Regions from separate parts of the Homo sapiens genome. Here regions 2, 3 and 4 are each linked to region 1. Evidence: fine-mapped expression QTL. A gene starts in region 1. Each other region holds a variant in brackets. All regions are shown on one strand. Distances are between the middles of the regions.

The links. PIP is the estimated chance that this variant, and not a neighbour inherited with it, causes the effect. A credible set is the group of variants that fine-mapping cannot tell apart.
Region 2: its variant is the best candidate, but not a certain one, in a credible set for the expression of CPPED1 in whole blood (INTERVAL, PIP 0.52).
Region 3: its variant is the best candidate, but not a certain one, in a credible set for the expression of CPPED1 in spinal cord (GTEx, PIP 0.88).
Region 4: its variant is the best candidate, but not a certain one, in a credible set for the expression of CPPED1 in whole blood (TOPMed, PIP 0.87).

The regions. Positions count from the first base shown.
Region 1 is chr16:12,802,652-12,805,338 of GRCh38, forward strand. CPPED1 (calcineurin like phosphoesterase domain containing 1) reads right to left here and starts at 1,236. Exons shown (of 4, transcript NM_018340.3): 1 at 1,056-1,236. The coding sequence starts at 1,125. RefSeq lists an enhancer at 818-1,187 and a silencer at 1,268-1,317.
Region 2 is chr16:12,689,030-12,691,716 of GRCh38, forward strand. All of the region lies in intron 3 of CPPED1 (calcineurin like phosphoesterase domain containing 1), which reads right to left. Among named protein-coding and RNA genes, the nearest start is that of MIR4718, 30 kb to the right of the region's middle. The variant T/C (reference allele first, on the strand shown) is at 1,048.
Region 3 is chr16:12,696,567-12,699,253 of GRCh38, forward strand. All of the region lies in intron 3 of CPPED1 (calcineurin like phosphoesterase domain containing 1), which reads right to left. Among named protein-coding and RNA genes, the nearest start is that of MIR4718, 22 kb to the right of the region's middle. The variant T/C (reference allele first, on the strand shown) is at 1,538.
Region 4 is chr16:12,659,740-12,662,426 of GRCh38, forward strand. CPPED1 (calcineurin like phosphoesterase domain containing 1) reads right to left here. Exons shown (of 4, transcript NM_018340.3): 4 at 60-2,687. Among named protein-coding and RNA genes, the nearest start is that of SNX29-AS3, 50 kb to the left of the region's middle. The variant A/G (reference allele first, on the strand shown) is at 1,607.

The DNA.
Region 1 (2,687 bases):
ATAAGGTAGCAGGTAAAGTCTCTGAGGAAGTGAATGAACTTTAAAATGAGGTGTGACGGTTGAGAGAGCCAGGCTCACCAACCCTGCTAAAGAAGCAGAAAACAGCAAGCGCCAAGACCCTCAGGGAAAGAACGGCCTTGGCCCTTTTAAATGCAGTTCAAACAAGGGCAACAACAAAACCTGTTGCAGAACTGGGCAAGAGAGAGAATGACAACCCTGAAGGAAGTGGACACAAGCCTGATCATATAGGGCATTTAGGGTGACTTCCCTGGGGGTATAAAGCTGGTGAGAGCCTGGGAGGCGATCTGGCTGCAGGCAGCAAAAAGCCACAGAGGGGAATCAACAAACCAGAAACAAACCTCCCTCTTTACTTAGCACCTAGCATGCGTCCAACACCGGGTTACAAAAATACTTTTGATCTGTTTACGCTTCCAACAACCCTATGAGGCAGGTATTATCAAACCCATTTTTAAGGCAAAGCAGATAATCTAAATCCAAAATCCAAGCACTTCACTACGACTCTCGAATGCCCTCCCTCTCTACTGCTCTGATGGGGCAGTGTTACCATTTCGGTGAATGACTTAAATAAACGTCATTATGGAGTACAGAATACATAACGGTGAACAACCTTAATAAAACCGACACCCTCTAACATGCACCGAACGCTTATCCAGTAACACCCACAAGTATTCCCGTTTCACAGATGTGGAAGCTGAGGCCAAGATGCTAATGCACAGCTTGGAAACCAGGTCTCGCTGCAGAGTCCAAGCTGTCATTAACTATGCTTTGCTACCCTCCTCTTACTTCCCTTCTCTGGGGGAAGTTAGGTCAAGGCCAAGGAGGCTCCTAGACCAGATCGCTCTCTCGGCCTCGCCTCTCAACTGCGCCCCTGGAATCCCTAAGAGCAGGCTTTGATGCAGCTATGGCGGCTCCCAGGCCCCGGTGCAGCCCCGGATGGTGTCCGACTGGCGGAGCGCACACCTGAACAAAAGGTTCCCCCGGCGGAAGGTTCCGCAGCCCCAGAGTCCCCTCCCCGGGTGAGGGGCGGGCAGTACCTGCGGGAAACGCGGCCAGGGTCCTGCCCCTGGCTCTGTGGAAAACACCCCCCGCCTCTGCAGCCGACATGGCGAGCGAGTTTCTGGCCTTCACTTAGAACACTGCGTGGGTGGAAGCCGCGCGACTTCACACAGAACAACCGCTGGACCTGTCCCGCTTTGGGCGACGCCCTTTGATCTCGGGGCGGGACTGGGGCGGGACGGGGAGGGGCCCGGTGGCTCGGGGCGCCACTAGTGCTGCCTGGGCGGAGCGGAGGCGCCAGCGGCCCCTCTGGGATCGACCTGCGCGCCTGGCGAGTGGAGACTGTCTAGGGCACGCGTGGGCGGGGATAAGGCTTTGGGGTCAGTCCTTCCCTAAAGGCAGAGTTACTAGATTTAACAAGTAAAAATGCAGGACTCCCGGTTAAATTGGAATTTCAGATTTTTTTTTTTAAAGAATGACTGACTTGGTATAAATATGTCCTATGCAGTATTTGGGAGCTACTTACGTTAAATTTTTTTTTCATTATCTGAAATTCCAATTGAACTGGGCGTCCTAATTTTTTTAAATTTTTCTCTTTTTGCAGGTTTGAATGGAAGCGTCCTGATTTTTTTTTATCTGACAACTCTATCATAAAGTCAGAAGGAGCCACTGGGGTGGCTTACGCCTGTAACCCCAGCTCTTTGGGAGGCCAAGGAGGGAGGATCGCTTGAGTCCAGGTGTTGGAGACCAGCCTGGGCAACACGGCGAGAGACCTTGCCAATACAAAAAAAAAAAAAAAAAAGATGAAAAGGTGGACGTCTTGGAAGACTGTCTCAGCCTGAACTTCCCAGTGGCTGCCACCATCTTTCTGTTATTATCTTTGCTTGCTATGCACCAGGCAGGGCGCTAAGCACTTTGCACGCTGCTCACTTAATCCCCACTACAGCCCTAGGAGGTGGTGCTGTTATTAGCTGCATCCGTCATTTGGGGAAACTGACGCTCAGAGAGATGAACGAACTTGCACAAGGTGACACACATCTAGAGAGGTAGTAAAGCTGCGAGTAACCAAATTAGTGTCTCTTCAACTCAAGAGCCATTGTAGTGAACTACTTAGCCAGCATTTGTCAAACGTGTTGAAAATACAAATTCCAGAATGGACCTATTGAATCCAAATCTCTATGAAAATGATCTGTGTTTTGTTGTTGTTGTTGTTGTTTTGAGACAGGGTCTCACTCTGGTTGCCTAGGCTGGAGTGCAGTGGCACAATCTCTGCAGTCTCGATCTCCTGGGCTCAGGTGATTCTCCCACCTCAGCCTCCTAAGTGGCTGGCACTATTGGCGTGCGCCACCATGCCTGGCTAATACTTTGTATTTTTAGTAGAGACGAGTTTGACTATGTTGCCCAGGCTGATCTGGAACTCCTGAGCTCAAGCAATCCACCCACCCGGGCCTCCTAGAGTGCTAGGATTACAGGCATGAGCCACAGTGCCTGGCCTGAAAATGATCTGTTTTTAACAAGCACTGCAGGGGAGCTCTTATGATCTTACAAATTTGGGAAATTCTTTTCTAAACTAGCTGCCTACATCCAAAGCACTGTTTGAGTAGCTAATATGGCCATAACTACTGTTCTCTAATCCTTGACAAGAGTCACCCATGAATCATAGTGGTTAA
Region 2 (2,687 bases), 110 kb before region 1:
ATGTATGACAAAGAACAAGTGGAAACAACCTCAGTGTCCAACAATGACAAGAGTTAAATGAACGTGGTATGTCTACAGAGTACAATGAGCTGTGGTCTGGGTTTTTAATGACATGAGATAATGCTTTGTATGACATCATCTTATGCTTCCTAAATGCCCATATATGATCAGCTATATGAAAAGAGGGCTTTTTTTTTTTTTTTTTTTTTTTTAAAGACACAGGGTCTCACTCTGTCCTCCAGACTGGAGTTCAGTGGTGCAATCTTGGCTCATTGCAACCTCGAATTTATGGGCTCAAGAGATCCTCCCACCTCAGCCTCCCAAGTAGCTAGAACCACAGGTGCACACCACCATGCCTGGCTAATTAAAAAAGTATATTTTGTAGAGATGGGGTCTTGCTATGTTGCCCAGGCTGGTCTCAAACTCCTGGCCTCAACTGATCCTCCCACCTTGGCCTCCCAAATCACTGGGATTACACGTGAGAGCCACCACACCCAGCCAGTATTTCTTCTTAACAAGAAACTGTTCATGAATGGACTGCTTATAAACCAAGCCCACACCCCCAATCCCCCAAGCTGTGCAACAAGAGTGCACCTGTATGTGAGACCACAAACCACACTAAAGATGCAGGATTTCACAAAGCCGAAGGAAACGACACTGGGGAAGTCATCGGCAAATAAGGCTCTCACAGAGAAAACATACATGCCCACATTAGCTCCTGAGAAGCCAATCATCAGATTACTGATGGATTCAGAAACAGACTCTTATGAAGATTGATAAAATCTGAAAAGAACCCACAGTGATGCTCCTGCCAATGTCAAATGTAAAGTACAGGATGCTGTCAAAAGAATTTTTTTCAGACCATTTACTCCAAGGAAACCAAGTCGACACTTGATTACCTCTCTGTTCATCCTGAGTTGCTGCATACTGGCAGTAACAACCATTTTATCAAACACAAGTTGAAATTAACTGATTGCCATAATTTGTCTCTTTTCTCAAGACAATGTTTCAAACCAACCTTTATTTTTATTTTATTGCCATTTTCTG[T/C]AGCTACGGTCTGCATTTTAAGTGAGCTTTTTTTTTGGCAGCCATAATCTTTAGATAATGAGCCCACCTGGGCTTGAACTGGTGAGGGGCTGGCCAGAGTCTGCGGGGGTGGGTACAGATCCCTCCCTGTTTCATGAAAGACACCATCAAGAAGGCCAAGTGTGGTGGCTCATGCGTATAACCACAGCACTTTGGGAGGCCAAGGCAGGCAGACTGCTTGAGCTCAGGAGTTCTCCAGACCAACTTGGGCAACACGGTGAAACCCAGTCTTTATTGAAAATACAAAAATTAGCCAGGCGTGGTGGGGAGCACCCATAGTCCTGGCTATTTGGGAGGCTGAGGCAGGAGAATCACTTGAACCCAGGAGGCAGAGGTTGCAGTGAGCTGAGGTCATGCCACTGCACTCCAGCCTGGGCAATAGCGCAAGACTCCTTCTCAAGAAAGAAAGAAAAAAAAAAGGCCAGGTGTGGTGGCTCATGCCTGTAATCCAAGCACTTTGGGAGGCCGAGGTAGGTGGATTGCTTGAGCTCAGGAGTTCGAGACCAGCTTGGGCAAAATAGTGAAACAGTGAGATCTAGTTTCTACCAAAAAAAAAAAAAAAAAAAGACACCATCAAGAGCATCTTTGTCTGCAGAAGGCACAATTCACATACTCAAGATGAACGGATGAACGGAGAGGCTTACTATGAAAGAAAAATTCCTGCTTGTTGAGGCCAAAGGGGAATTCCACACCCCTGTATTCCACACCAAGTAGGCTCCACGGACCCTCACTTGGCAGATCCCTTTGGATATCCCAGTGCTGAGCCTCTGTGGTTGCAGCACCAGCTCCTTTCCTGAGGCAGCCCCTGTAGAGGAGCAGGTGAAGAATGGGCAGGAGGGTGAGCAGGTGGGACCCTGCCCCACACGGGTATCCCGGCTCCTCTCTACTTGCCATCAGCACCCGTGCCCACGGTGCATTCTGCTCATCAACATGCTCTGGGGCACCCAACAGCAATGTCGTTGAGAACACAGGACCCAGGGCCACTGCCCAGGCCCCAAGCAATTAGTGTCACCCACCACTTTGCAGCTGGTTGATGCTGGGGAAGCCGATTTGTCTCCCCACGCTGCAGTTTCCTTGTCTACAAAATCAGAGCAAGAGTCCCTGTGGTGTACTATTTATTAAGCAGTCATTATTACTATTTTACTAGTATAGTGTCCTGTGTGTGTTTTCTTTCTTTCTTTTTTTGAGACGTAGTCTCACTCTGTCACCCAGGCTAGTGGCGTAATCTTGGCTCACTGCAACCTCTGCCTCCTGGGTTCAAGTGATTCTCCTGCCTCAGCCTCTCAAGTAGCTAGGATTGAAGGCATGAAGTAGAAACACAATTTGACCCAGCCGTCCCATTACTGGGTATATACCCAAAGGATTATAAAACATGCTGCTATAAAGACACATGCACACATATGTTTATTGCGGCATTATTCACAATAGCAAAGACTTGGAACCAACCCAAATGTCCAACAATCATAGACTGGATTAAGAAAATGTGGCACATATACAGCATGGAATACTATGCAGCCATAAAAAATGATGAGTTCATGTCCTTTGTAGGACACGGATGAAGCTGGAACCCATCATTCTCAGCAAACTATCGCAAGGACAAA
Region 3 (2,687 bases), 110 kb before region 1:
GAGTAGCTGGGATTACAGGCACTCACCACCACGCTCCACTAATTTTTTGTATTTTTAGTAGAGATGGGGTTTCACCATGTTGGCCAGGCTGGTCTCGAACTCCTGACCTCAGGTGATCCACCTGCCTCAGCCTGCCAAAGTGCTGGGATTACAGGTGTGAGCCGCTGCGCCTGGCCTGACTTGTCTTTTTGATTTTATATATGACTCTCCTTAAGGGATACACCAACTTGACAAGGTTGGGGTGAGTACCCTCTTTTTACAAGTGGGAAAACTAAGGCAGAGAAATGTTTAGTGGCTTATCCCAAGCAACTTAAGAAGCCAAATCCTGTCTGTTCACCTGCCATGTTATAGGACCCCCTGCCCACCGGCCCAGACGCTAATTCCCCCTGTACAAACCTCCAAGTTTTGCCTTATCTGCACAGTACTCATACTACTATTTACTGAATCATTTTCTTTATTTTTATTTTTTATTTTTTGAGTCAGAATCTTGCTCTGTTGCCCAGATTGGAGTGCAGTGGCGCAATCTCAGCTCACTGTAACCTCTGCCTCCCAGGTTCAAGCCAATGTCCTGCCTTAGCCTCCCAAGTAGCTAGGACTACAAGTGTGTGCCATCACGCTTGGCTAATTTTTGTATTTTTAGTAGAGATGGGGTTTCTCCATGTTGGCCAGGCTGGTCTCGAACTCCTGAGCTCAGGTGATAATTAAATCATTTTCTTTAAATTGATAAGCTAGTTCTATTTTTTTCTAATACATGTGAAGCTGATCACCCAATTATTAGACATCTTACATGCACCATGGACCCTCTTGTCTGCAATCCATCACATCCTGGTCTTCAGGGGAACATGTGCCTCACCCAGGCACGCCCTCCACTGAAGACCTTCAGGAGGCTTGTTCTGGGCAGACCTTTCTGTCAGTCAGGCAGTTGTTACAATGGGGTCGTCAGATGCATCCTAAACTTAGACACATACAGAATGTGGACAAGGTTCTGGGGAGAGCAAGAGCGTCACCCTGTAATGGGAACATTTCTCTAAGCCAAGAGTTGGAAAATTATCACCGGCAGGCCTACCACCTGTTTCTGGAAATAAAGTTTTATTGGAACACTGCACTGTCTGTGGCTGCTCTCTTGTTATGAAGGCAGAGTTGAGTAGTTGCTACAGAGACCATAGAGCCACAAAGCCCAAAATATTTACTATCTGACCCTTTACCGAAAAGTTCTATTGACCCCTCTAGGCGAAGCATTTCCCATACAAAAGTCAGCTTGTGGCCTGGGTGCAGTGGCTCATGCCTGTAATCTTAGCACTTTGGGAGGCCAAGGTGAGCGGATCACTTGAGGTCAGGAGTTTGCGACCAGCCTGGCCAATACAGTGAAACTATCTCTTCTAAAAATACAAAAATTAGCCAGATGTGGTGGCGTGTGCCTGTAATCCCAGCTACTTGGGAGGCTGAGTCAGGAGAATTGCTTGAACCTGGGAGGCGGAAGTTGCAGTGAGTCAAGATGGCACCACTGCACTCCAGCCTGGGTGACAGAGTGAGACTC[T/C]GACCCCAACCCCCACCAAAAAAAAGTCAGTTCATGAAAACCAACTCACAAGTGATACGGATATTACCTGCTGATAAGTAGACTTGAATCACGCTTAATTCAATTCCATTGACCACTATTCACCTATTGGGGGGCTACTATATGACAGTCTCAGCTAGGGGCTGGCCTTACAGAGGTGAATAAGGCTGGGCTTCTGTTTCCTGGAGGAATCAGGATCTAAACAGTGACTGCAATACAGCGCAAAGGATGTCAGAGCAGGATTTGATGTTTTATCTTCCTATAAAGTAAATCCTGGGAACCTGATCTTTTTGTTCTTTAAAACTTTGAATTTTTTTTATTTATTTTTGAGACACAGTCTTGCTCTGTTGCCCAGATTGGCATGCAGTGGCGTAATCTTGGCTCACCGCAACCTCCGCCTCCAGGGTTCAAGCGATTCTTCTGCCTCAGCCTCCCAAGTAGCTGGGACTACAGGTGCCTGCCACCATGCCCGGCTAATTTCTATATTTTAGTAGAGATGGAGTTTCACCATGTTGCCCAGGCTGGTCTTGAATTCCTGACTTCAAGTGATCCACCCACCTCGGCCTCCCAAAGTGCCGGGATTACAGGTGTGAGCCACTGCACCTGCCAAAACTTTGAAATCTTAAAACTATAACCATGGACTAAGATTTATCTTCTCTCTCTCTCATTTTCTAAAAAAGCATAAATACTAGAAATGAAACTCTAATTCTGTGAAATGACTCATTAACTTTTGCGGGGAAGATCAACTTATTGGAATTTTTCATAATTGCCAAATTTGCTCTGGGCTCTCTAACACACAGTTCTAATCTCTCTTCGGAGAATGGAAAAAAAGAAAAGGTATCGAGACATCAAGGGAAACATGGTCAGTTAAAGATCTAGCTTTTGTTTTTTAAGACTGAGCTTCTAAATTGGAATCAATATTAAATGGGTCATATATTAACCCTCTGCTGAAAGAGGCATAAAGGACCGAGAAAATGTCTAGGTTCAACCAAAATTTCATTATCTACTATCTGTCTTTGCTACTCCAACTAGGTATCAGGTGAATAAAGCGGAAAACCAATTTCTACATCCCTTGGATGTGATGAAATTGATTATCCTCACGCAGGTGAAATGAAGACAGAAAATAACAGGT
Region 4 (2,687 bases), 140 kb before region 1:
GGGTGGAGCAGTGTATTAGTCCACTTTCACACTGCTATAAAGAACTGCCTGAGACTGGGTAATTTACAAAGAAAAGAGATTTAATAGACTCACAGTTCCGCATGGCTGGGGAGGCCTCAGGAAACTTACAATCCTGGTGGAAGGGGAAGCAGGCATGTCTTACATGGCAACAGGAAAGAAAGAGTGTGAAGGAGCTATCAAACACAAAACCATCAGTGTCATGAGAACTCACTATCACAAGAATAGCATGGGAGAAACTGCCTCCATGATCCAATTACCTCCCACCAGGTCCGTCCCTTGACACATGGGGATTATGGGGATTACAATTCGAGATGAGATTTCAGTGGGGACACAGAGCCAAACCAATTTGGGTGGAGACACAGAGCCAAACCATATCAAGCAGGAAGGCCACTTTCAGGGGTGAGCGTTTGAGTGGATGTTGAAATGATGACAAGAAGCCAGTTTCTAGAGAGGCACAGTGGCTCACTCATTCTAAGTGTGCTGCAAAGCCCCTTTAGTGAAGAAATCTACTTCTCAAACATAATGGTCAGAATAATGAAGGGTAACATGATTATTCACATTTAATCGACTTCATTTACATAGATAAAGCCTAAAGGAAAAATCCAATCTGTATTTATGTGCATGCACTGATGTTTAAAAATCCACTGGAGGAAAAGGAAAATTTAGTCAGCAAAATCTTTTCTAGATAAATGCTAGAAATCATTATTCCAAGAAAAGAATCCTCCACTTTTACTATATGTGTGTGTGTGTGTGTGTGTGTGTGTGTGTGTGTGTACTCATTAAAAAATACATAAGAGCTCCTCCATGGCTTGAGAATATTTTATGAAGTTATAAAAATCAGTATTACCTGTCAAGTACTATGTTACATGTGCAATCAAAACTGTTGAGGTTACCTGAATAAAAAAAATCCCTGATGTCTATTACAGAAAGCTTTTAACAGAACTTGCCTTGGCAATTTACTCCTAAATCTTCTTTTTCCTCCAGCTCAATATAATATTGCTACCTAATATTGTGACTGCACAAAACCATTTTAGGTACCACTTGGGAATAAGTATTAAGAGTTCAAGTAAGGCTGGGTACAGTGGCCAACGCCTGTAATCCCAACACTTTGGGAGGCCAAGGTGGAAGGACTGCTTGGGGCCAGGAGTTCAAGACCAGCCTGGGTAACAGAGCAAGACCTTCAACTCCACAAATATAAAAATAAAAAATTAGATGTGGTGACACGAGCCTATAGTCCCAGCTAATTTGGGAGGCTGAGGTGGGAAGGTTGGTTGAGCCCAAGAGTTCAAGGCTGCAGTGAGCTGTGATCACACCACTGCACTCCAGCCTGGGTGATAGAGCAAGATTCTGTCTAAAAAAGGGTTCAAGTAAATGCAAATGATGTTTTGGCAACCTTTTCTCAAAAGATTCTGCATTGGAATACAGACTGTAATATTAAACTACTATGTGTATATTGTTTCTACAGTTGTATACACCGTAGTGTCTTTTACAGGTATATAAGGTCAATGGCCCTAGTCTAATTCAGATTTAAACTAGTGCTTGCCTTGTAACTCTGCAAGTGATCAATAATCTCTTAATACTGAAA[A/G]TCACAAAATAGGATAAAACGTTCTGTTGCTAGTCCCATAAAGCTTACTACATTTTTTCCCCATTCTCCCCAAACTTAGGAGAAACTTGACTAAAGATGTGAGATAAAATTATTTATTGTAAAAAGTAAATGATCATCTCCCCAGCCCCATTCCCAAAGTCACTTGAGCCTTTGCAATCCAATTTGAGATCACTTTAAAAAACCTTCCCCCGTAACATGTCCTTGTGTTTTTGTTTTTTCCTCCAATTAAAGTGATTAATTGGAAAGGGGAGCATTAGGTGACATTCCTTGCCTTGAGACAGCTGGTGGTTTCCTACACCCTGTGGTGGTAACTCCAGACATGGAGCAGCTAGAGCTGCGGACAGTTACTGCTGCAGACAGGGCTGTGTCCCGTGACTCATTATGGTTCAGTTCGGTTTCTAAATCTCCCCCAGTAAAAATCCTCCCCCTGGAACCATCTGCTCTTTGGACAAGCTTCTGCCCCCTGAACCTGGTGCAATCAGGGTCTGGTCTAGGCTTTGCAGAGCTGGGAGGAAATCCCTGGGCCTCCAGCTAACGCTGTCCAAGGTGCTGAATACCGTACTCAGTGTGTTGCCACTGGCTGAGCTGGTGCAACCTTTCACCTCTGAGAAACGTTTTCCAAGACAGGACAGTGTTATGGAGCATGGACTCAAGCCTTGGGCCATCTACATCCGTTCTTTCTCCACCAAGATGAGTTAGGCGACCTTGGCCACGTGACCCCCACCTTTCTGAGCCAAAGCACTTAAAACACATAATAAACATTCAAAACCATAGCACTTAGAATCAGGAAGTCCTTTTATCGTTTTTCACAGTATAAGGCACTTATTTTTTGATATCATTCTCTTTTTTTAAAGGCAAAGGAATTACAAGTGAACACACTAGTCATGGCCCATCAGAATGATAGATGCTTATCTACAAAAACATTTCCTGACTTCTTGCTGAACCTCTTGCCTCTGGGAAATACTGCTGTTTGCTTACTTAAAAAGTGGTGAGAAATTAATATGATTCTCTCTTCCCTTTTAAAAAATTAAATTTGTATAAATATAAGGCGTACAAGTGC